2 linked regions of the Homo sapiens genome follow. The protein of the gene in region 1 interacts with the protein of each later gene in a pairwise test. Each region holds a gene or a part of one and is shown on either strand. Other genes may lie near its edges. The genes, in order: PLXNB2 and ARHGEF11.

Region 1 (15,444 bases):
CCTGGCCCTCACCGTGGAGAACGGCCATGGATTTCCCCTCCCAGAGAATAACACCATGATCCCTCCACCCTCAGTCTGGGGCCCTTCCTGGCCCAAGTCTACCTCCTCTGCCCGGCCTCTGGCTTCTCCCACCTCCATCCATCTTGCCCTCAACACTGAGCCAGGCTCCATCTCCTGCTCACAAGATTCCCGCTTAGCTACCCCAGAAAAAGGAGTTTCTTCCTTAGGTGGCTGTGGTCACACCTGACGCTGCTGCACCCAGGGACCTCGAGGCCTGAAGTCCAGAGCCAGACCAGTGAGTTCACACCCCAGCTCTGTCACGTTCTAGCTGGCTCATGTGGGCCATTCAGAAAGCTGCTCTGTGCCTCAGTTTCCCCATATGTAACCTGGGGGTCATTATGGCGCCCACCTCAGAGGGCTGCCTTGAGGTTGAGTGGGTGTGGAAATCTTTACAGCTGTGCCCACTCAGAGAACGCTGCCTCACGACATTCCCACGTCCATGTTCACTGTGCTCCCTGGAAAGCCCCTGCCCATCCTTTAGACCCCGAGACACCCTCCCTAACCCAGCCCCTGAGGGACTGGCCTTGCTCTGTGGTCTATGGTCTTCCCCGACAGGCCCCGGCTGCCCCGCCGCCCTGCCCCAACAAGTCCAAACACTGGATCTGGTCACTGGGCACCTGCCGGTCCAAACTCAGTGAGCCGGGAAGGGGTGGTGACATGCAGGGGCGCGAGCCCAGAAGACCTGTCCCCGCAGGTCACCCCCAGGCCAACAGAGCAGAAGGGTCTCCTCCCCCAACCAGAACTCCGATGTAGGCCAAGGGCAGCACAGGGATGCTGGGCCTCCCCTCTACAACCTAGACAGCCTGGGAGGCAGCAGGAGCTGCTTGCTGGCTGGGCACCTGTGGCCCTCTCCTGAGGTCCCTTTTGTTTTTTTTTTCTGACCAGCAGCCCCCAGGCCCCTTGCACGGGCTGAGTCTGGCCCCCGCCCCTCCCACTGGGTAAAGGTAAACAAGAGGCATGTAAGGGGGAAGGACAGAGCCCTACTCCAGATGAGGCCAAGAGTGGGGGCTGCCAGGCCCCCAAACTCCTGCCAGCCTTGGTTCTGAGACCGCCCCAAGTCTTGGCTGCACTGCGGGGTGGTTCCAGTGGGGACTAAAATTGGGAGTTCTCTGCCTTTCAGTATTTTCAAGCAAACAGACTGGGCCATTCTTTTCTTTTTTCTGAGACAGGTCTCACTCTGTCACCCAGGCTGGAGTGTAGGGGCATGATCTTGGCTCACTGCAACCCCTGCCTCCCAGGTTGAAGCAATTATCCTGCCTCAGCCTCTCCAGTAGCTGGGACTACAGGTGCACGCCACTATGCCCAGCTAATTTTCTGTATTTCAGTAGAGATGGGGCTTCACCGTGTTGCCCAGACCGGTTTCGAACTCCTGAGCTCAGGCAATCCACCCGCCTTGGCCTCCCAAAGTGCTGGAATTACAGGCGTGAGCCACCACACCCAGCCAGACTGACCATTCTTAATGCTAAAATCAAACCAGCACAAAGCAGTCAGGCCCAGTGGGAGGGCAGGCCCAGCTTGGGGGCTGCTCTTGGCCAGGCCAGGCTGTGGGCTCTGGCACGGGAACCAGAGAGGGCAGGGGCCAGAGGAGGTGCATGGGCAGCGGCCCGGCAGGGGCCAAGATGGGGATCCAGGCAGCAGCCGCCATGAAGAACGAGGAGAGCTCGGGCCTAGGCCTGGGAGGGCAGGAGGGGGTGGCATGAGCACCTAGGACATGGGCGGTGGAGAAGGCAGAGGTCCTAGGGCTGTGCGGCCCTCCAGGGCTCAAAGGATTGGGGTGGACACAGGCCCTGCGTGGGGTGGGGGGGGGGCCCGGTGCGGGGGCGGGGGAAGCAGCCTCGGACCAAGTGAGCGATAGGCTGCCCCAAGCACAGGCCAAGGCGCGTCTGAGAGTGGCTGTCCCGGAACGGGGCGACAGGCGTCACAGAAAAGCCACGGAGGCCCCGGAGGCCCCGCAGCCAGCAGCCAGGGGGCCGGGCCAAAGCTAGCGACACACGCAAATCTGCAATTATCCCAGAGCGCTAAACACATCAGAGGAAACAAAACAGACGCGCCGGCGAATCCCAGCCTCCGCTGTTTTCAAAACAAGCGCGAGGGGGGTGCCGCGGGGCGTGGGGCTGGGGGGTCGGCAAGGACCCCGGCCGCCCCTTCCCGCAGCGCCGCGCCCGTGGGTAGGCGCGGGGAGGGACTGGGTGGAGAGCGCGCGGGAGACCCGGCGAGGGCGAGACCGGCGGCCCCGCCACCCAGCCCCACCCACCGGTGACCCGGGTCAGAGTTCAGCCCGGGAGGCGGGGGGCGGTGTCTCCTGGGTGGGTCTGCGAGCCCGGTACCCGGCCAGAGCCAAAGGCGGGCACCCGGCCTGTGTGGAGCGCCCTGGACTATTCCTCGCAGGCCGACCCAGGTGGCACAGCCCCTCCCCCGGCGCCGGCACCGCCAGACTCCCCGGAGGGCGCAGAACGGTTGCCCGGGAGCCAGGGGCAAAGCGCGCCCGGGGCCAGGAAGCGCAGGGACTAGGCCCGCGCCTCCTCGGCGCCGCCCACTGCCCCCCGCGAGCCCAAGCTCCACGGCCACCGCCCGCGCCCTCCCGGGGACTCCGGCGCCCCGTCCGCCCCTCGGCCTCGCGCACCTGGAGGGAGCACGTGGCCGCCTCTGGGACAAACCTCACCAGGCCGGGGGCCCAGGACGCGCGGGCGGGTGGGAGTCTGACCCGAGTAACAATGACGGCGGCGGCGACAGTCACACGAGCGCAGGAGACGTCGTCCCCGCGGGGCGCTCACCTGGCGTCGGGCACATCGGATCGCACAGCCGGCCATTACCTAAGTCCTCCGAGCCGTGGAAGGGGCGCGGGGAGCAGCTCCGCCCCGCCGATGGTGGCTCCGCCCGTGCCCCCGGTCGGTCTCAGGGCTCGGCCCCTCCCGGCCCAGCTGCCAATCATGCACGACCCTGCCCGGAGCAGCCTCCCGCAGGACTCCGGACCCAGGGTCAAGGCCAGACTCACCCGAGGCAAAGGCCGAACGCTCCCGGCACAACCCGACCTAGGAGCTGGGGCGGGGCGGGGCGGGGCGGGGCTCCAGGGACAGACTGATGTGGAGGCCTGAGCCTCGCTTCAGCGTCTACAGCGGTCCCCGCTGGACTCTCGGCTGAGGACCCCTCCCAGGTGGAGGCCGTCGCACCCCTTCCCCGCCAGCCTGGTTTCAGGGTGGGGTTCCTACTTAGGGCCAGCCTCCCCTGCAGTCTGGGCTCTGGGTCCCAGCAGGAAAAGTCACCCTGGCTGGTGGCAGTGATGGGGTCACCAGCCCAGGATCCTGGGGGTGCCCCATGAAGCCCCAGCTCCTCCTGTCACTTGCTCCAGCCGAGTTAGTCACAGCCCCCACTGGTCCACACCTCCTGACACACCCAGGCCACCTGGTACCCAGGGCCTCTGTATCTAGCCCTGGCCCTCAGGCACCCCCTGAGCTCACCTGGCCATGCCCAAGGGGCCTGCCCCAGCCCCCTCTCCGCCTCTGCACCAAGTGCAGCCCCTGTATATGGTGCGTCCCTAGACTGGGGCCCCAGGCTGCCCTCCCATCCTACACACAGTTGTGAGGCCCTCCTCAGCCTCCTCTCTGGCCACGGCCCACTGGCGCATCTGGAGGATGGTCCTCCCCAGCCCTCAGACAGAAGGTGGGATCCAGTTGGCTACGGCGCCCTGTCCCCACACGCACCAGGCCTGCAGAACCACCTCTCTCCTCAACCACCCCTTTCGGGGTCCCAGACCCCATCCTGTCCAACCTGGGCACAGCTGCAGCCCCCTCTTGCTACACCGTGGTCCTTCGGGTCAGAAAGCTGGGCAGCGCAATGAACCTACCGATGTCTCCGTGCTTCCTGAGGACCTCCTGTGGGAGGGGTGGGCACCGCCAGGCGCTCGGGGCACACGAGGCCGATGGCTACAGCAGGAACCACCAACTCATCAGGACAGGACATGCGGTCAGACAGCAGGCGGCCACGGAGGGACTCTCGTGGGATTCTGGGGCTCAGTCACTTGGAGTCTCTCCTGAAAGGAGGCCTCCCGGCCCGCCGGTGCCCAGCCCCACCTGCAGGCTCTCCTCTGAGTGGCCCCCACGCATCTCCCCCTTTCCAGCTCAACCCCGCAGCAGCCGGCTGCTCAGAGACCAGGTCCTGCCTGGATGCAGCTGGCTCAAGACCAGCCCCCGCCCACAGCCCCCTTCTCACCCCCGGGGTGGGCGTTGGGGGGTGGACGGGTGAGGCCCCAGCCAGTGAGCAGTAAGCAAGGCCTGTAATCTCCCCGTCAGCCTGTCAGCGCCTCAGCGGTCACCCCAGCCCCGCCTCGCCCATCACCGCTGAACCCCACAATTAGCTTGGGGCACCGCGCCAAGCCTGTGTGCCAGACACCACTTGCACACATGACCACACATGTGCAGACACACATGGCTGGGTGCTGCCGGAAAAGCCCTGCCAACAGGGTCTCACCCCAACACCCAGAACTCGTCCCCAGTACAAAGAGCCTGGGAGAGAAGCCTCAGGCCGGGGCACTTGGGCTAAGAGGGGCAGTGGGGCTCTCAGAACCCAGCGCTGCCTGGAGCCCCGAGGGAGGGGCCATGTGTGGCATGGGGAAGTGGGGTGGGGGCAGGGCCGTCTCAGCAGGGGAGAGGGGCTGCGTCTGCCCAGGATGAGCTGGGGGCTGGTGAGGCACAGGGTGTTGGGCAGGACCTGGGTCCAGGCCAAGGGTGAGGCAGCCCAGGGTGTGGGCTGGGCCCCACAGGGGCAAACACTCAGGGCTTTGGGAGGCCAGAGGGACAGGGATTTCCCAGTGAGGAAATGCCCATCTCAGAGTGGGGGCAGGACAGTGAGTGGGAGGTGATGCCCGTGGCTGGAGCTGTGTGGGGAGGTGGGTGCCCCTGGAGGCCAGGTCCAGCCCCTTGCTCCACGCGGAGGCTTGCTCTGCTCATGGTGGAGCTGAGGACTTCAAACCCCACAGGGCCTGGTCGAGAGCCACTGGGCCCCAGGTCTAGATGTGGAACTGGGGGACCCTCCAGCGAGCTTTGCTGGGCCTGGGCGGCCTGCCTGGGGCGCCCCACCTTCACGCCCTCCTCCCTAACATCCTTTTCTCCTGAAGTCCCTCAGGGTGGTCACCAGATCAGGCTCGGTGCCAACATAGGAGTGGGGAGGCCAAGCCCCTCAGCTCCCCTGGCCAATCTCTGAGGCTGAGAGGGAGTGGGGGGGGCCATGCTGGAGCACCTCCCTCCCACCACCTGCCCCTTGCCCCTGTCAACTGCTGGCTCCACTTAAAATAGCTTCTCCCCCTCGCTGGTGGGAGGGAGGCCCTGGTGTCAAGCCGGTAAGGCTGGAGCAAGGCTGGGCACAGGGCCTGGGCTCAGCAGTGTTCTGTGCCCTCCATCTCCTCCAAAGCAGGCCCCAGCTCTGAAAACACACCTGACAGGGCTGGGATCCACAGAGTCCTCACCTCCTGCTGGTCCTCAAACCCCACTCTCCATGGCTGGGTCCCTGAAATACTTGGATTACCCTCAAGCCCCCCGCCATCCCCCCAAGCTGTGGCTCCCATGCCACCCTACCACGTCTGAGTCACACAGGCCCAGGCCTCCCTTGCTTCCCCCAGGAGAGACCCCCCCACACTCCTGCTTCTGGCCTGTCCTCAGAGCCCCAGAACTCACCTAGGTTCAAAGCCAGACCCCAGCTGAGGACAGAGCATGGACCCCAGGCAAATGCAGTGACAATCACAGAGCACGCTCCTACCACAGCCACCCACGCAGCCTGAGGCATAGCCCCCTGGAAACTGCCTCGGCCTTCAGCACCCCACTTTGGACCAGCAGGGCAGGGGGGTTCCTCCTCTGAGAAGTCCTCAAAGCTGCCTGGAAGGAGCAGACAGTGCCCCCAGACGCCAATCTGACAGGGGGCCCAATCTGTCTCTGAGCAGGTGGCATGCTGGCTCGGGGGCCCCAGACCACAACAGAAGGTCACCTGGGAAGAGAGCCGCAGCCCTACACAAGGCTCGTGGGCAGGAACCGTCCCAGCCACAGGAGCAGACGCCCTTGCCTGGCCCCTCAGGGGGCCGTGTTCACACAGGAGGCCTTCTCAGAGGTGGACACCAAGCACTTCTCTCTCTTGCGCTTGCTGCGGGACTCAGCTGGGGCAGCATCAGGCCCAGAAATCGGTGCTGGACACTGTGTCTCCACACAGGGCCCCCCATGGAAGCTGCTGACCAGCTGTGCCAGAGGGGCCGGGGCCCTACCCCCAGGAGCCCAGTCCCTGCCTCTGATGCTGCTGCTGCTGGGACCCTGCTGGCAGAGCTGGTGGCTGAACTGGGGCAGCACCTCCCTCTCCTGCCCCAGGCCTGGGCCGGGACTCAGCTGGCACTGGAATGAGGAACTATTGGCTTTCAGAAGCCAGGAGACCTTAGGGGGCTGAGGAAGAGAGCTGGACCTGCCCCCAGGCGCCCTGATCCCAGCCCAGGGCAGTCTCCTCCCTCACCTAGCCTGGGACATGAGGCAGCTCAGGTGTGGCCTTAGGGGCTACCCCCAGGGAAGGCCACCAACCATAGCGGGCCACGGTGTGGGCTGGCCTCTGGGTGTGAAGGGCTCCAGGATCTGGGCTGCAGAGGCGGGACTGTGCGAAACAGAACCCCCAGCTCCACAGCCAGGCCAGCCCCAGGCTCCTCCCCAGACAGACATCCCCGGGGGTGGGGCAAACCTGCAGTACCACCAGGGGCAGCCTGTCCCACCATCCCCGGCACCACTGGGCCTGGGGCCAGTCACTGTCACAGGTTCATGAATCTCACAGGGCAGGGTGGATCCACTGGGGGGGTGCGGGGTGCCAGTGTTCAGGGCCAGACGGGAGGGGCCCAGCCAATCCCTTCACACGCTTGGTCTTCAGAGAGAAGGCTTCTGAGCCAGGAGGGCCACTGTGTCAGGGCCTGGCTTGAGGCCACACCTGTGGCTGGGGGAGCCCAGAACAGTGCAGGGTCCTTCCCTGGTAGGCAGAGAAAGGCAGGGGTCCTTACAATCCAGGGGTATGGGAAGAAGCAGGCCCTGTGTCAAGGGATGTGAAACCACGGAAAGGAAGAAGGTGGAGGAACCTCGACCAGAAAGAGGGAAGCTAGGGCAGCTGCCTCCCCGGGGCCCCAGAGCCTGAGCACCCCCCACCAGCCAAGGCTCTGACCCACCCTCCCCATCGTGTAATTAGTCAGAGACCCAGCCCCACCCCACCCACAGCCCCACCCCAAACACAAACAGCCACTACCCCTGAGGGAGGGAGGGGCTGTGGCCAGTCCCAGCCCTACTGAATCTCCCACCCCCAGAGAACCTGGATCTGCCTCAGAGAAGGGAGGTCAAGGCTGGGGGGCCACTTGCTGGCCACTGGGTGAATTCTGAGCAGCTCACCACCTCATCCCCAAACCGTGTCCAAGGCAGGCTCTGGGCACAAGAGGTTCCCCGCCAACTTCCAAGGAGGGCGGCCAGGCTGCAGCCAGAGGGACGGAGGCATGAGCTGAGTGAGAACTCCCAGCTCAGGGGAAGGCAGCCCTCGTGGCAGAGGCCTGGCATCCAAGTGCCTGCCTAGCTCAGAGAAGGCACAATATGAGGGGCCGGAAGACACAGCCTCTCCCAGCCAGTGCACCCCTGCCCACGCCCGCGTCCCAGGGGGACCATCAGCTGTGGCTGGCACAGGGTGAGGCAGGGGGCAGGACACGGTGAGCACGGACGACGTCCTGGGATGGGAGGAGGACTGTGCCATATGGGCCCTCCCCACCACCTTCCAATCCAATCTCTTCTGCTCCACTTCCCTGGGCCGGGTCCAAGGCTCTGGGCTTTCTGCACTTGGGGCCAGCTGCCGGCTCCTCCTCCCCGATGTGGTCCCCATGCAGGCCGCCGGGCACACACCCCGGGCGCACACACAGCATGGACCCAGAGCGCCAGGTAGCCACAGCCCTGGCCACACAGCATCGCAGATGACTCCTCACATAGACCTATCTCTGGCCTCAGTCTCCCCACCTGCAGGATGGGCTCACAGGCGCCATATCCAGAGGGGGTCGTAGGCAAGGACTGGCTGTCGGAGGGGCTTGGAGGGAGGCTGGTCCGTTAGTCAGGAGCTGAATAGGGAGTCCGTTGGGGCAGGAGGGCCCCCTGAGGGAAACCCCAGTGCCCTCCCTAGCAGCCTAGCCTCGCTCCTGCCTGCTCCTCCCTGGCACGCACAGGTCACTGGCACAGGGTGTGTCCCTGAACTTGGGCCTGGAGGGTACCTCAGAGGCTCTTCAGACCACCATTGAGACTTCTCGGGGCGAGGGGGTCCCTGGGTGGGGCGAGGGGGTCCCTGGGTGGGCCCAGAGCTCCTCCTGTTCCATGGTCTCCCCCAGAGGGGCTTGGGCCCACTGCAGGCTCAGCAGGGCCTGCTGGGGCCAACCTTGGGGCTTTCTCCAACCCAAAGGTGACGCATCTTCTCCCCGCCCAGTCTGGGCAGCTGCAGTAGAAAGTGGCAGAGCTGCCCGGACTTGCCCGTCCTCCTCCTGGGGCCCTCAACCCACGTCCCGGAAGTGGATCCTTCTCCCACGCTGCAGCCTCCCGCTTCGGGTGACTGGACACGGCTGGATGATCCAAAATAATTCTTTCTTGGCAGGCAGCCGGTGGGGGAGGGGGACTCACATTCCAAACCCTTGTTTTTCTCAGTAACTTCCCTCCTCTACTGGGGCAAGGAACCCCTGGCCAGACCTCAGGCCTCCCAGACCCCCCGGGACAGAGGTGGGCCCCCCATAGGTACCGTGGGAGGACTCAGATGTGCCAGGCCCACCTGCTTGCTTCTCAGTCGGCTCTGGGGATTTCTATGCAACATGCAAAAAGCTGACTCGCCACAAACCTATGCCTGCTGGCCCTGCCCTCCGGGAGACCCTCACCTCTGGACAGGAAAGGGAGGGCTCCTCCCACCAGCTGTTCAGCTGTTCCGTGCCAGGGTCATCTGGGCATGGGGCAGGCTGAGAGCCCCCACTTCCCGGCAGCCTCGCTCTCCCACCCGCAAAGGGCTCCTGAGGAAGCTCAACTTTAAAGCCTCACAGGCTGCGCCGAACCTCCAAGCAAGGGCCGAAGTCAGACATTAAGTGGGGAGGGCGGGGGGGTCCAGGGAAGGTGGGGCACAGGGAGCCCTCCAGGCCGCCGGGATCTGCCGGGTTTGGGGCCCACCCTCACCCTCACCCTCACCCTCACCCTCACCCTCACCCTCACCCTCACCCCCTGTCCTGACTCTGCCACAGCCCACAGTGGGCAGACGGACCCCTTTCTTCCTTTCCCAGGGAGCTTCGGGAAGAGAAATCAAGGGCCTGGCAGGAAGCCCCAGGGCGTCCGGGCTCTGAGACCCCCAGATGACAGGGGGAGGCGGGCTCCCCAGATCTGCCGAATAGCCCGACCAGGGGCGCTGGCAGGGCAGGGGCTTCCTGCAGGAGCAGGGTGCGGAGGGGCAGGGTCAGCAGGGGACAGGCAGGGCTCGCGCCCCCGCTTCTGAGACTTTCTGTGTCTCGGGGTGTCCACCCAGACGCCACTCTGGGAACCGCGAGGAGGCCCAGGCAGTGGGGTCTCGCCAGGTGCGGGTGCTCTCCGCCCTGGTCCCCCCGCGCCAAGCAGGCCCCAGGGGGTGCGGGGACGGCCCCCGGGAGCTCGGGCAAATCCAGGCTCCTGTGCCGCTGAGCCTGGGGCCGGCCCGGAGCGCCCGCACCGCGAGACCATCTCCGCTCGGCGCACGGAGCTCGGCGGCTGAAGAGTGAGAGGCAGGCGCGGAGGAGGGATCCGACGCGGCTCCGGAGGGACGCGCAGCCCCCGCCGCCGGGCCCGTCCCCCGAGTCAACACCGGGAAGGGAGTGGGGCGGCAGCGGCCCGGGCCTCGCCGGATGGACCGACGGACGGGGCCCAGGCCCCGGGAGCCCTCCGCGGAGCCGCAGCCGCCGCAGGTCCCCGGGCCCCAGCGCGGCAGGCCCGGGCGGAGCGGCGCTGACGGCGAAGCCCCCCCCACGCCCAGCGAGACGTCCCCCGCAGCCCAGTCCCCCGAGCTCGGTACCTGCACGTCCGCCGCCAAGGCTCGATGGCGCCCGGGCCGCGCTCGGCGCTGCGCTCTGGCCCGCGCTGCTGCCATGGAGACGGGGCCTTTGTGTGGCCGAGGAGGGGCCGGAGCGCGCGGGAGCTGCCGGCCCCGCCCCCGACGAGGGAGAGGAGGGGAGGGCGGGGAGAACAGGAGAAGGGGGGAGAGGGAGAGGGAAAGCGGAGGGGGAGAAGGAGGGGGAGGGGGAGGGGGGAGAGGGGGAGGGGGGAGAGGGGGAGGGGGAAGAGGGGGAGGGGGAGAGGGGGAGGGGGAAGAGGGGGAGGGGGAGGGGAGGGGGAGCAGGAGCGGGGAGGAGAGGGCAGAAGAGAACCGGAGAGGAGGGGAGGGGACGGGAGGGGAGGGGCTGGGCCTGCGCTCCCCGCGCCCCCCACTTCTCCCCTGCCCAGCGGCCACAGCATTGTCTGGTAGGTTCAGGCACCCCAGTTCAGACCCAGGTTCAGCCAGGGCAGCACCCTGCCCACCATGCCGCCGTCCAGGAAGCACGAGCGCCCACAGAGGCCCCATGGCCTGAGCACCCCCACAGGAACCCCGCAGGTCTGAGGGGAGGCCATGGCTTGGTACCAGGGGAGGGCATTATGAGTGCACTCTCGCCTGGCCAGAGGAACGTGAGGGTCCCTGCCAGTCTTGAGATGTGTGGGCACCAGACTCTCACTCCCAGACTGGAAGCATACCAGTCGCTCCCCTGCGGCCTTCAGGGGTGGGGGCTGCTGGGCTTTGGCCCTTTCCCAGGGGTCTCAGGCCCTCAACCTCCCAGGGTAAACTGGGACCTGGAGATGGCCTCCCAGCACATCCCTGGCCTCCAGCAGCACCTTGGGATGCTGCACCCGGGACCCCACCTGGTCCTTCAGGGCCAGGAGGTGGGCGGGCCGAGACCTCTTTCTGGGGGTTCTGGTTTCTGGGACAGAGCTGGCCCCACTTCTGGCATCCCAGGTCCCAAGTCCTGGCCTCAGTGCTCCTAGTGTCCCCTGGGCTTGAGAAGAGGTGGTGAACCGTCTGCAGGGCCAGACCTTGGAGCACGCCTCCACTGCCCTCCCGGAACTGGATGTGCTGAGCAGGAGACAGAAGCATTCCCCAAGCTCTTGCCCCCACCCTGGGTCACCCCTCCCTGGGGCCCGCCTTCCACCCAGACCTGCCCCGTCCTTGCAGCTGGTCAGCTTCCTCCTGTCCCCAGCCAGGCATCCCCTCCTCCTCTGCTTCCCCCACCCGGGATCCGCCCCGCCACATCCTGACAAACTCCCCCAGCCTGACTTAGTTCTTTCAGTCTCTGCCTTCTCCCACCCTCAAGCAGCCAGGCCTTGTTCCTGTCCAAAATCTTCCCTTGGGCCTTGAACCACAATCCACATCACGGCAACCCTACCCTTCACTGCAGAGGACCCCAAAATTACCAGGTTCTGACAAGGTTGCCAACTTTTTATCAAAAAAGGAAAAGACAAGGTCCAGTCACAAAAGGACATTTTAATACCAAAACTGTGGGAAGGCCACTGTTCTAGACTAAAAGGGAGTCTTTAAATAGCCAGCAGGAAGCTTGAGGGTGAGCAGCTGTCCTTCCTGTCCCTGAGCAGGCCCCCTGTGTGCACCCTCAGCCCCGAGCCCCACTCCAGACCTGCTCCCAGCCCTTCCCACCCTCTAGGTTCTGTGGTCCCTGTCCTTCGGGAGGCCTGTGACCACAGCAGTCCTCACCCTCGCCAACTAAGTTCTGCCCAGCAAGCCCTCTTGCCTGCGGGGGCTGGCACTCTGGCCAGGGGTAGAGCTGTCTGGACCTTCCTGCCTCTTCACTGACTGCCCCTGGCCTGGAGTGCGTGGGGCGGGGAGGGCCATGGCCTAGCCCTGGACAGAGGCTCAGCCAACTCAGAGCGGCCCTGACACTGGGGGGGCCACAAGAGGCATCCGGACAGATGGAGCTGGCAGGTCTCCACGCCCAGCCCCCACCCATCCACCCCAGGCCACATTCCACCCCAGGCCTCTTCTGCACAGGTGGGGACAGGCCCTGAGGAAGAGGGGCTGGGACACTACCCCCCACCTTAGCCTTAGCTTCTGCCCAGGGCAATGCTGGCCACCCAGCCCGGTTCCCCCCTCAAGTTCCCCCTTCACACGCCACTATGTGGCCTCACCAGAGCCCTCCAGGGAAATCTGCTTGTGCATTTCTGGATACACAGTGGCCAGGGTCCCTGGGGGCTCCTCAGAGACCAGCCTGAAGCCCCTCCCCTGCAGCCATGTGGGTCTGCAGCCCTCTGTGCTGTGCGGCAGCCCTCAGAAAGCCAAGTGAGGCGAGACTGTGCTGTGGGGAAGCACATGCTGCCACGGTCCTTGGGGTGCGCTCCCCAAAGTGGGGTCACAGTTGTGAGAGAGGTGGGTTGTCTTCCCAAGCTGCCCCGACACCTTGAAGTGGTGGTCCTCAGGGGGCTGGTCACCAGCATAAGGCTTTTGCAGAGGGCCCTGGTGGAGGGCAGCTGATGGCAGGGCCTGTACTGGCCCCCCAGGCCCCATCTTATGGAGGTCAGCATTCAAGCTGCCCACACAAGAGGTGCCAGCATCTCTGCAGACCCTCTAGAGACCAAGCCCTCAGTGGGGAGGCTGGTCCCCCTGTGCTACAGTCAGGAGGCCCAAGCTGCATTTGGGGCCAGGACCTTTCTCACCCTCGGGTCCCCGGCTTGTCCCTGCCACAGAACAGGTTTGCCACCTCGGCCTCTATGTGTTCTGTTTCATGTGGTCACATCCTTGGACCCTGCACCAGACATCTGGGGCTTAACAGCTCCCCTTGGTCACCCTCCCGGCTGCCTCCGCGTCTTGTCTGTAGAATGGGAACAGGGACAGGCTGTCCTGGGCTGCAGTTGGGCTGGACAAGTTGACATGTACCAAGTTCTGAGAACTACCTGGCGCCCGGACACCTGACCCCGCTGTCCTTGTGGCTCAGTCACATCCTGCACTGAAGTGGCTGGCAGTGCTCGCTCTCCACCACCTGGCTGGAGGTCTGAGAGCACCAATGAGAACACAAACAGTACGTTGCGCTGAATGAAGGCTACATTCCTCGGACTGAATGGGGGCCTCAGAAGAAAAAGAAAAGTCCCGGCCGGGCGCGGTGGCTCATGCCTGTAATCCTAGCACGTTGGGAGGCCGAGGCGGGCGGATTACGAGGTCAGGAGATCGAGACCATCCTGGCTAACATGGTGAAACCCTGTCTCTACTACAAATACAAAAAATTAACCAAGCGCAGTGGTGGGTGCCTGTAGTCCCAGCTACTCGGGAGGCTGAGGCAGGAGAATGGCGTGAACCCGGGAGGCAGAGCTTGCAGTGAGCCGAGATCATGCCACTGCACTCCAGCCTGGGCAACAGAGCGAGACTCCATTTCAAAAAGAAAAAAAAAGAAAAAGTCCCTCCCCCAGCCCTGTGTCCCCTGGCCAGCACCCGCCCGGCCTCACAGGGTACAAAGCCCAGTCTCCATGAGTGGCCCTCCCAGCACCCTGTCGGGCATCTGCATGGCTGGCTCGCTCAGATGAGGAGTCTGAGGGTCTGAGTGGTCAGGGGACCTGCTCCCGGGCACACAGTGCGTGATGCTGAGCAGGGCTTGGCTGTCCGGAGCCCTGACAGTACCGTCACTGTGTGCTGTGCAGGGTCAACACCGTACCTCACCGGCCTCAGTGCCTGCAGGTGTCACGGGGGGAGCATACAACCCAGAGGTGGCTCTTAGGGACGTTCACCCCTTACCAAGGAAAGGGAGACATGCAGGCTCCAGCCAGAGGCAGGGTCAGGCCGAAGTCCAGAGCCCCTTGGGCTGCATGTGGGGGATGGACGGACACACTTGGACAACAGGAGCCCTGTCCACCTCCCAGAAGGGACGCACGGAGCTGGTGCCTGGTGGGGGCTCCAGGACTGGGAGCCAGGAAGGTGCTGTGGCTCTCCGAGAGCCAGGCTGAGCCAGCTCTCCTAGCAGAGGTGCTGGGCTGCACACAGCCCCCTGCCCAACCCCTACCTCCCAACAAACCACAGCCCCAAGCAGGTGGGTGTCCAGAGGAGCACCAGGGGTGGTGAGCAGAGCTCTTCACACTGCAAAGTGGTCTCTCCCTTTCTCAAGTTGATGACTATATGCAAAATAGCCTCCCATCCCCAGACAAGACGGGGGCTGTGTCAGGAGAGGGTCCCTCCTGTCCTGGGCAGCCTGTTGGGCTGAGGGAAGCATCACACACAGCGCAGGGGGGTCGGGGGCCAACAGATGGGCACCGGGAGGGGCAGACGGTAGACGCACCCACATCAGCAAGGGCTCCCAGCCTGTCCCCGCCCCCGTCCCAGCCTAAGGTCTGCAGAGGCCAGGTGGGACCCAGGAGGAGGCAAGGCTCTGCCTGCGAGGAACCCCTATGGTCAAGGCCATGCTGTGGTTCCAAATGTCGCCTTTACTGCTGAGACAATGGTGGTGCAGGAAGGGGAGCCTGCAGTCTGGGCGGGGGGCCAAGGAAGGGGAGCGTGTGCTTGGCCCAGTGCCGCCACCACTGGGGAGTGGGAGGCTCAGGCAGACCTAGGGCCCTGGGACCGTGGCCCTTGGCTTTGTTCTAGGGAGGGCACAAGACAGCCTGCAGGTCTTTGGGCAGGGAGCCGATGACCGTCTCGATGTACAGCTGTGCCCGCTGCAGCGTAGCCTCCTTCACAGGGAGCTGGTGGCCCTGAGCCCGCACCTGGAGGGGCAGCCATGGTCAGGGCAGGCGCAGCTCCGTGCCAGGCTGGTGGCGCTGGGACAAGGCTGGGAGGCATCTTACCAGCTTCTCACGAAGTTTCAGGACCAGGTCCACGACCTCCACCTCGGACTTGTCTTTCATCCAGGTCTCGATGTTCTGCAGGGCAAGACGGGGTCTACTGTCAGCAAGGCCCCTCACTGCCCTGGGCCTGTGCCCACCCCCACCATGTTCTGGCCCTCCCCAACCCCCAGCCTCTCTCACCGCCTCACAGATAGCCTCCAGGTGCAGGGCCTCCAGCTTCAGGGCCATCTCCTTGTGCCGCTGCCGGTACCAGCCATCAAAATGGGGGGACTTGAAAAACCGCCTGTGGGGATTAACAGGCGGGGGGCCATGGGGCTGACCCTGGGGATTGACAGGCGGGGGCCATGGGGCTGACCCTGGGGATTGACAGGCGGGGGGCCATGGGGCTGACCCTGGGGATTGACAGGCGGGGGGCCATGGGGCTGACCCTGGGGATTGACAGGCGGGGGGCCATGGGGCTGACCCTGGGGATTGACAGGCGGGGGGCCATGGGGCTGACCCTGGGGATTGACAGGCGGGGGGCCATGGGGCTGACCCTGGGGAT
Region 2 (7,000 bases), on another chromosome or scaffold:
TGAACAGCAAGCCTAGTGTCCTTCATTTTCTTTTTGCTTCTAGTCAAACCAGGCAATGTGAGGAACATCATTCAGCACTTTGAGAACAACCAGCAGTATGATGCCCCAGAACCTGGGACACAACGACTCTCGACCGGAAGCTTTCCTGAGGACCTGCTGGAGAGTGACAGGTAGCACTGGCTGGATGGGACTCGCCAGCTGCTCGAAGAGTGGGTCATGGGCAGGGCTGATGCTAGGGTTTAATTCCAGCTACTTGACCCCTCTCCACTAGCTTCTAAGGCTCCCTTTACAGAACTTCCTCCCCACCCCCAGTATCTTCAGGAGACACATTGTGTGCCAGTGAACAGGCCAGTGGAAGAGCAAGCAGATCCCCGACTTCCAGCCCAAGAACTACACACTTTTCAAATTCCCTTTGGATTTATCACCTGACTACTCAGTAGCCTTCATCCAAGATCGAGCTAGGTGATAAAAAGCAGCTAATCAGGAAACCCTAAGTGACAAGGATAAGGAAGACTATAGTGGGGGCAAGAGGGAGTCCTGGGGAAAAAAGACCCAGGCAGGCAAAAGAAAGTGGTTTCCTGTCTGTATGTGAAGAAGAGAGCCAGAGATGAGGTTCTGCTGGGTACTTTAAAGACAAATGATGTAACTATAGGCATCAGATGTCCACCTCAGCAAAGAGAGGCAAAGTGGATTGATTACAAATGGACTGTTTTTCCCTTTTCAAGAAGAAAAAGGGGAATTGAGACTGGCATCTCTCATATTCTTCTTTGGTCAGGTTCTAACTAGAGTCCCCATCTGGTATGAAAACTTGTTCTTGGACTTACTTGCTCTTGATTGTGGCATGACAGCAGTCAAGTCATGTCTAAAATTCTATAGCCAACACTTAAAAACCAACACCACCCTTAAAGGTGACTTAAACAGGTAGAGTAATATGGTCTTGTGTGGGGGGAAATAATGCTTGTGTACAGTCAAGCCTCAGAGCCACTGAGCTGGAGTATAGGCAGGCATGAAAGCAAGTCAGTATGCAGCAGCGTGGATATTCAAGCCATTTTGCCTTCGTTTGTTTGTTTGTTTGTTTTGGGGATTTTTTTTTCTTTTTTAAAGAGACAGGATCTTTCTCTGTCACCCAGGCTGGATTGCAGTGGTGCAATCATAGCTCACTGCAGCCTCAAACTCCTGGGTTCAAGGGATCCTCCCACCTCAGCCTCCTGAGTAACTAGGGATACAGGCATGCACCACTGCACCTGGCTAATTGATTTTTATTTTTATTTTTTTGAGACAGTCTCACTATGTTGCCCAGCTTGGTCTCGAACTCCCAACCACAGCAATCTTCCTGCCTCAGCCTCCCAAAGTGCTAGGATTATAGGCATGAGCCACTGCACCTGGCCTATTTTGCCTTTGAAATAACTAATTATCAAACCATAAGCCAACCTTTCCTGCTTGAATGCAGGTTACTCCTTTCTGTTTATATGAAGCCTTTTTTCAGCTTAACACGTGTTAAAAGATTTTGCTGCCATGAGAATTGACAGATTTACAGGAGACAAAGGTTAGATTTGTACTGGGGGAAGGTTGAGTTCTAACATTAATGGGTAAGTTAAATACGCAAATTATGTGATTCCTGTGGAAGCACATGATGTCGTAGATATATCAAATATTTTAAGATTATAAGACATCAACATTTTGAGAAAATATTTGAGACCATTTACAAAGTTGCATTCTTGGCATTGCTAGGTAAATTTGCCCTAAGACACTTGCTAGGATCCTAAAGCTACTCTAAGCAGAAGCCTTTGGGTTTGATGATTATCAACTCATTGGCAATCTCAGAAGAAATAGTATTAGCAATATGGTGGGTCAGAGATTGTTGTAGATACTCAACAGGTATAAGATGCCCCAGTTCTAGAAGGCAATACCCTAGGAATTTGGGGGCAAAGACAGATGATATGCCTCACTTCTTGGTGAGGAGCATTACTTACTTCTGGGTGCTTGAAGGAAGGTGCTTAGCTCTGCAGCCCCAGTAACTCCACTGGGTGTTTGTTGTGGTGGTACAGTGACCCATTAGGACACTGAAAAGTGTTCCGAGTTAGTCTGGGTTGGGATTGTTCTAACACAATTCTGGAGGGTGAATTCAATAAGGGATCAGTGGGCAGTATGTTTTCTAACCCTGCAGACAAAACCCTCAGGACCCTAGGAGATGAGCTCCATTTTGGATCATCTGGCAGTTTGGGCACAATGAATGGAGACCGAGACATTTAGCTCCTCATTGCAGCAACCTGCTGTGCTATTAAGAGCTCTGCAGACATTTCCAGGCCTCCTGTGGTCCTAGAAGCAGAGCAGGATGTAGATTACTAATAATATCAGAAAACCAGCCCAACAGGGCCACAGCATGGAGGTGGGGTGACCATCCTGGGGCAGCTAGGGGTCAGAGGTGCCAGCTGTCTTGGGCTGATGCACTGCAGGACTCGACACCGCAACACCCAGTCATCAGCATCTCATCAAACCCCAGAGACACTCAGTAGCCAAGCACGGCAGGCCAAGGAGCGGGTCCTGCCTATCAGTAAAAAGGCCCCTTTAAGCACAAGCCTGTCTGCTCTTGAGAGGAAATGGAATCTTAGGAACAGTATTGTTAAGATAAGAATGGAACTCATCCACATCACAACTGGAAGGCTAAGAATCCAGCAGCAGATAGAACTTTCTGACAGGCAGTGTGGAAAATCCTAAAATGAGCTGTGAATATAGTGACTCCACTTTCCTCTTAAGACCTCTTAAAAGAGGTTCGCCTCAGGCAGAGTTAAAGGTGGGAGCTGACCCGTTCCAAAGCAGAGGCAACGTGAACTGGCCACTAGGGGCAGGGAGCTGGGACCTTGTGTTCCCTGTTGAGGGACGATGATGTCTACCACCTTCTTGACAGAAGCATGGTGTCTCAGGCCTCTGGACACACTACAACTCAGAGTCTGTTAGCCCCAGATTTCATCTTCCTGTTAGGATCCCTTCCTAATAGCTCCAGAGGAAGATGACTGTCCATCCATCAGGCTAGGCTGGGGAGAGAGGAGGAGTTTGTAGAGCAGCAAAAATAGTCTGTCATTGAGAAGCTTCCACTGCCATCCAGCTGCTTTGGCCATGTTCAGGAGGAGAACCTGTGGCACGGAGGCATCTTTGAGATGGAGCCACAGGTAAGAGTTAGCCAGGATGTAAGCATGGCCCACTGACTTCCCAAGTCCCAAAGTCTTTTGTCCCTTCCCCCCAGTTCACGCTCAGAGATTCGCCTGGGCCGCTCTGAAAGCCTCAAGGGCCGGGAAGAGATGAAACGGTCTCGAAAGGCAGAGAACGTGCCCCGCTCTCGCAGTGATGTTGACATGGATGCTGCTGCGGAGGCTACTCGCCTGCACCAGTCAGCCTCGTCCTCTACCTCCAGCCTCTCCACCAGGTGGGCAGGGCTACAACGGCTGCACCCATGGACATCTCAGGGGTGGCGGCAAGGATAGAGGGTTGCTGAGAGTTGACATTCCCTCCACAGGTCTCTTGAGAACCCAACCCCTCCATTCACTCCCAAAATGGGCCGCAGGTAAGTGATGGGCACGGTGGTGCCTCTGTTTGGTGTCTCTGTGTCCCATCCACACCCAGCTGCTCCTCTCACCTGCAAGGGGCTGGTTGGGTGGCTGTCTCCTCTTCTGGGCCCACTGGTTTCCCATGTGCATGGGGCAAGCAGGTCGGGCAGGAGAGGGAGGGCCAAACCCTCTGTGTGAGTTCTTCCTCCTAAATGAAGCTGAGCTGCCTGTTTTCCCCCAGGAGCATTGAGTCCCCCAGTTTGGGGTTCTGCACAGATACCCTCCTTCCCCACCTCCTAGAGGATGATCTGGGCCAGCTGTCTGACCTGGAGCCAGAGCCAGATGCCCAAAATTGGCAGCATACAGTGGGCAAGGATGTGGTGGCTGGGCTAACCCAGCGGGAGATTGACCGGCAAGAGGTCATCAATGGTGAGAACGTGCTCCACTGCCCCCAGCTCCGCTCACACGTGTGGGAATAGGTCCAGAATGCCTAAGACACAAGGGTGGGAAAGAGGTAAATAGGGTGGGGGGCCCCTGTGTGCTGGAGCAGGTCCACATTGCCTGTTGCTATAAGGTTCCCCTCAGTTCTGGCCCTTGGAGTAAGAGAAAAGTTGCTGTATGATCTGAAACTGGCACTTCAGTTCCCCCAAAAATAGAGTGGTGTGGGAACCAGGTCAGGGACTCTAGATACTTGCTGATCCGTTTTCTCCCTGGCTTTCTACCCTCCTTGTCACAACCACCGCTCAGAGCTGTTTGTGACTGAAGCTTCCCACCTGCGCACACTCCGGGTCCTGGACCTGATCTTCTACCAGCGAATGAAGAAGGAGAACCTGATGCCCCGGGAGGAGCTGGCCCGGCTCTTCCCGAACCTGCCTGAACTCATAGAGATTCACAGTAAGGAGCCTGTGCCCCTCCAGACTCCTCTTCTGCTGCCCTTCAGCTTCCTGTTCCACTTTGGCCCCACTGCCAGGACCTCCCTGAGTAGGTAACCTCCCACCAATCCCTGGTGAGAAAAAGATCTGTGGACAGCCTGAAACCAGCACTGGAGTTCACCCCGAAAGTACAATGGTTTCCAGACCCTTCCCATGGCACTGCTGTCAGAGATTCACTTCTCTCTGTCAGAAAGGTTCTGGCAGTTGAGCTCAACCCCAGGCATTTCTATTTGTTCTCTTCCTGCCCCAGATTCCTGGTGTGAAGCCATGAAGAAGCTCCGGGAGGAAGGCCCCATCATCAAAGAGATCAGTGACCTCATGCTGGCCCGGGTATGGCTCCAAACTTCTCCCTCTTGGCAAGGAGGAGATTGGGGGAGGCAGGGTCTCATTACCCAAGGCCAGAGAATTTGGCAAAGGCAGGGGTCTGGTCCCAGGCAGGGGTTTGATGCCTGGCCCCGTGTCCATTCTGCCTCTTCAGTTTGATGGCCCTGCCCGAGAGGAACTCCAGCAAGTGGCTGCACAGTTCTGTTCCTATCAGTCAATAGCCCTAGAGCTAATCAAGACCAAGCAACGCAAGGAGAGTCGATTCCAGCTCTTCATGCAGGTGCGTCCTTGGCCATGCCTTGGCCTTCCTTCATCTCCATCAAGGTCACCAAGGATCTCCTGAACTTCTCTCCTTCTGGCCACATCATCCCTGTCTACAGCAACTCCCTCTACCCTTCGACACACGCTCCTCAAAAGCACTGACTCACTCTAGACAAAGAGACTTCTGTTTGTTGGAAAGAATCCTGGATTAGCAGTCAGAGGCCTGGCTCACCCACCAGCACCTGTGTGTCCTGAGATGGATCTCAGTTTCCTTGTCTATAGAATGGCAGCAATATGCCTGCCCTTCTGTTTTGACCATATCCCTTTGGATTGGTGTCTCCCTGCCACCACACACCCTTCTCTACATCTTTAAGGAAGAAGCTTCCACTGCCATTTCTGAGTGATCCATCTGGCGTTAGGACCTGTTTGTCATGTTCACACCCATCTTGGCCCTGAGCCCATAAGCCAGCTCCCAGCCACGCTGACATCTCCTCCCTTCTGTGTCTCCTGCTGTCTAGGAGGCTGAGAGCCACCCTCAGTGTCGGCGGCTGCAGCTGAGAGACCTCATCATCTCTGAGATGCAGCGGCTCACCAAGTACCCGCTGCTGCTGGAGAGCATCATCAAGCACACAGAGGGTAGCACCTGGGGAGGGGCTGGCATCACAGGCAGTGGGCCTCGTGCCAGACCCTCATTCTGACACTGCTTTGTGACCTTAGCAAGTCACTGTGCCTTGTGGTCTTTGGTGTCTTCGTCCTTTTTCTGTTGTGGGGTGTTTCAGAGAAGAAAATGATTGTAAATGTCCTTTGGAAAATATAAGGTGTTTAATAGTGGGAGGAGTAGGGGCCACCATCGAAGGCCACCTGTGTGGGCCTTTGTGCAAATCCAAGGAAAGCATCCGGTGCCCAACACAGGCTGGCACTCAAGGGCACCTGGGTCCCTCTGGTTGCATGGGGCTGGATTTTATCCCCATTCATGCCCCCTGCAGTGCACAAAAGACACAGCCTATGTGGTTACACTAGAGGGGCAGGGGACCAGACTGAACAAGAGGGTCTAGCCTCAGGTTATCACTCTCCCTGGGATCCTGGGCATCTTTCACTACCCCCAAATTTCAGACATTGGAGTCAGGACAGAGAGGTGTTAGGAACCCCAATCTGATTTGAACAGGCTTTCTAGAGGCATAATTGTGGCCATTTACCACAGTCTCTGTCCCTTGCATCTGTAGAGCTGGTTGTAGTAGAGGCAGGGATTCCCAGGAGCTATCAGCGTCTTCAAAGCAGTGATCTGTCTGAGACCTGAAGATGCTCAGTAAAAGTTACCCTTACCACTTGGGGTCCTCATGTGAGGCAAGGGTGGCTCCCCTCCACCCACGCCTGCTGGTTTGAAGCAAGCCAGCTGCCATGGATGAATAGGCAGATAACAGCTGGCGCCATGTTGGACTTCTCAGGCAGGAGCCCCAACCATCTCTTCTGTCCATTTTGGTAGGTGGCACCTCTGAGCATGAGAAGCTGTGCCGGGCCCGGGACCAGTGCCGGGAGATTCTCAAGTATGTGAATGAAGCGGTAAAACAAACAGAGAACCGCCACCGTTTAGAGGGCTACCAGAAACGCCTGGATGCCACCGCCCTGGAGAGGGCCAGCAACCCCCTGGCAGCAGAGTTCAAGGTAGGAGGCAGAGGCTGCAGCAGTCAACCCCTCACACTTTGTGGGTACCCTTAGGAGCAGAACACTGGTCAGGGCTTGGAGAGTCTTAGAGGTAGGAGACAGAGACCAGATAGGGTGGCACAATGGAGCCCCAGAAGACACACACCCTGCTATTGTCACCCTGTCCCTAGATGGACAAGGCAGGCCGCCCCACCTAAGAAAGACTAGATGTTGGAACTCAGCCTGAGAGAGCAGGGGATGGGGTAGAACTGGAGGTAAGGTGGAGATCTTCTGGGA

The links.
Region 2: the proteins of PLXNB2 (region 1) and ARHGEF11 interact in a two-hybrid assay, tested with the Homo sapiens proteins (2 studies listed by BioGRID).

The regions. Positions count from the first base shown.
Region 1 is NC_000022.11:50,297,443-50,312,886, forward strand, and holds the start of PLXNB2 (plexin-B2 isoform 3 precursor), read right to left. Parts: upstream 10,205-15,444; 5' UTR 10,111-10,204; intron 6,380-10,110; exon of another isoform or gene 6,037-6,379; intron 4,228-6,036; exon of another isoform or gene 4,021-4,227; coding exon of another isoform or gene 3,905-4,020; intron 3,070-3,904; exon of another isoform or gene 3,056-3,069; intron 2,894-3,055; exon of another isoform or gene 2,684-2,893; intron 1-2,683. Other genes in the region: protein DENND6B, read right to left, coding at 14,697-14,819, 14,901-14,975, 15,081-15,183.
Region 2 is NC_000001.11:156,944,743-156,951,742, reverse strand, and holds part of ARHGEF11 (rho guanine nucleotide exchange factor 11), read left to right. Parts: intron 1-43; coding exon 44-170; intron 171-1,725; exon of another isoform or gene 1,726-3,117; coding exon of another isoform or gene 3,118-3,170; intron 3,171-3,223; coding exon of another isoform or gene 3,224-3,244; coding exon 3,245-3,424; intron 3,425-3,514; coding exon 3,515-3,562; intron 3,563-3,786; coding exon 3,787-3,974; intron 3,975-4,292; coding exon 4,293-4,439; intron 4,440-4,727; coding exon 4,728-4,807; intron 4,808-4,955; coding exon 4,956-5,081; intron 5,082-5,580; coding exon 5,581-5,698; intron 5,699-6,545; coding exon 6,546-6,724; intron 6,725-7,000. UniProt on the Homo sapiens protein: May play a role in the regulation of RhoA GTPase by guanine nucleotide-binding alpha-12 (GNA12) and alpha-13 (GNA13). Acts as guanine nucleotide exchange factor (GEF) for RhoA GTPase and may act as GTPase-activating protein (GAP) for GNA12 and GNA13.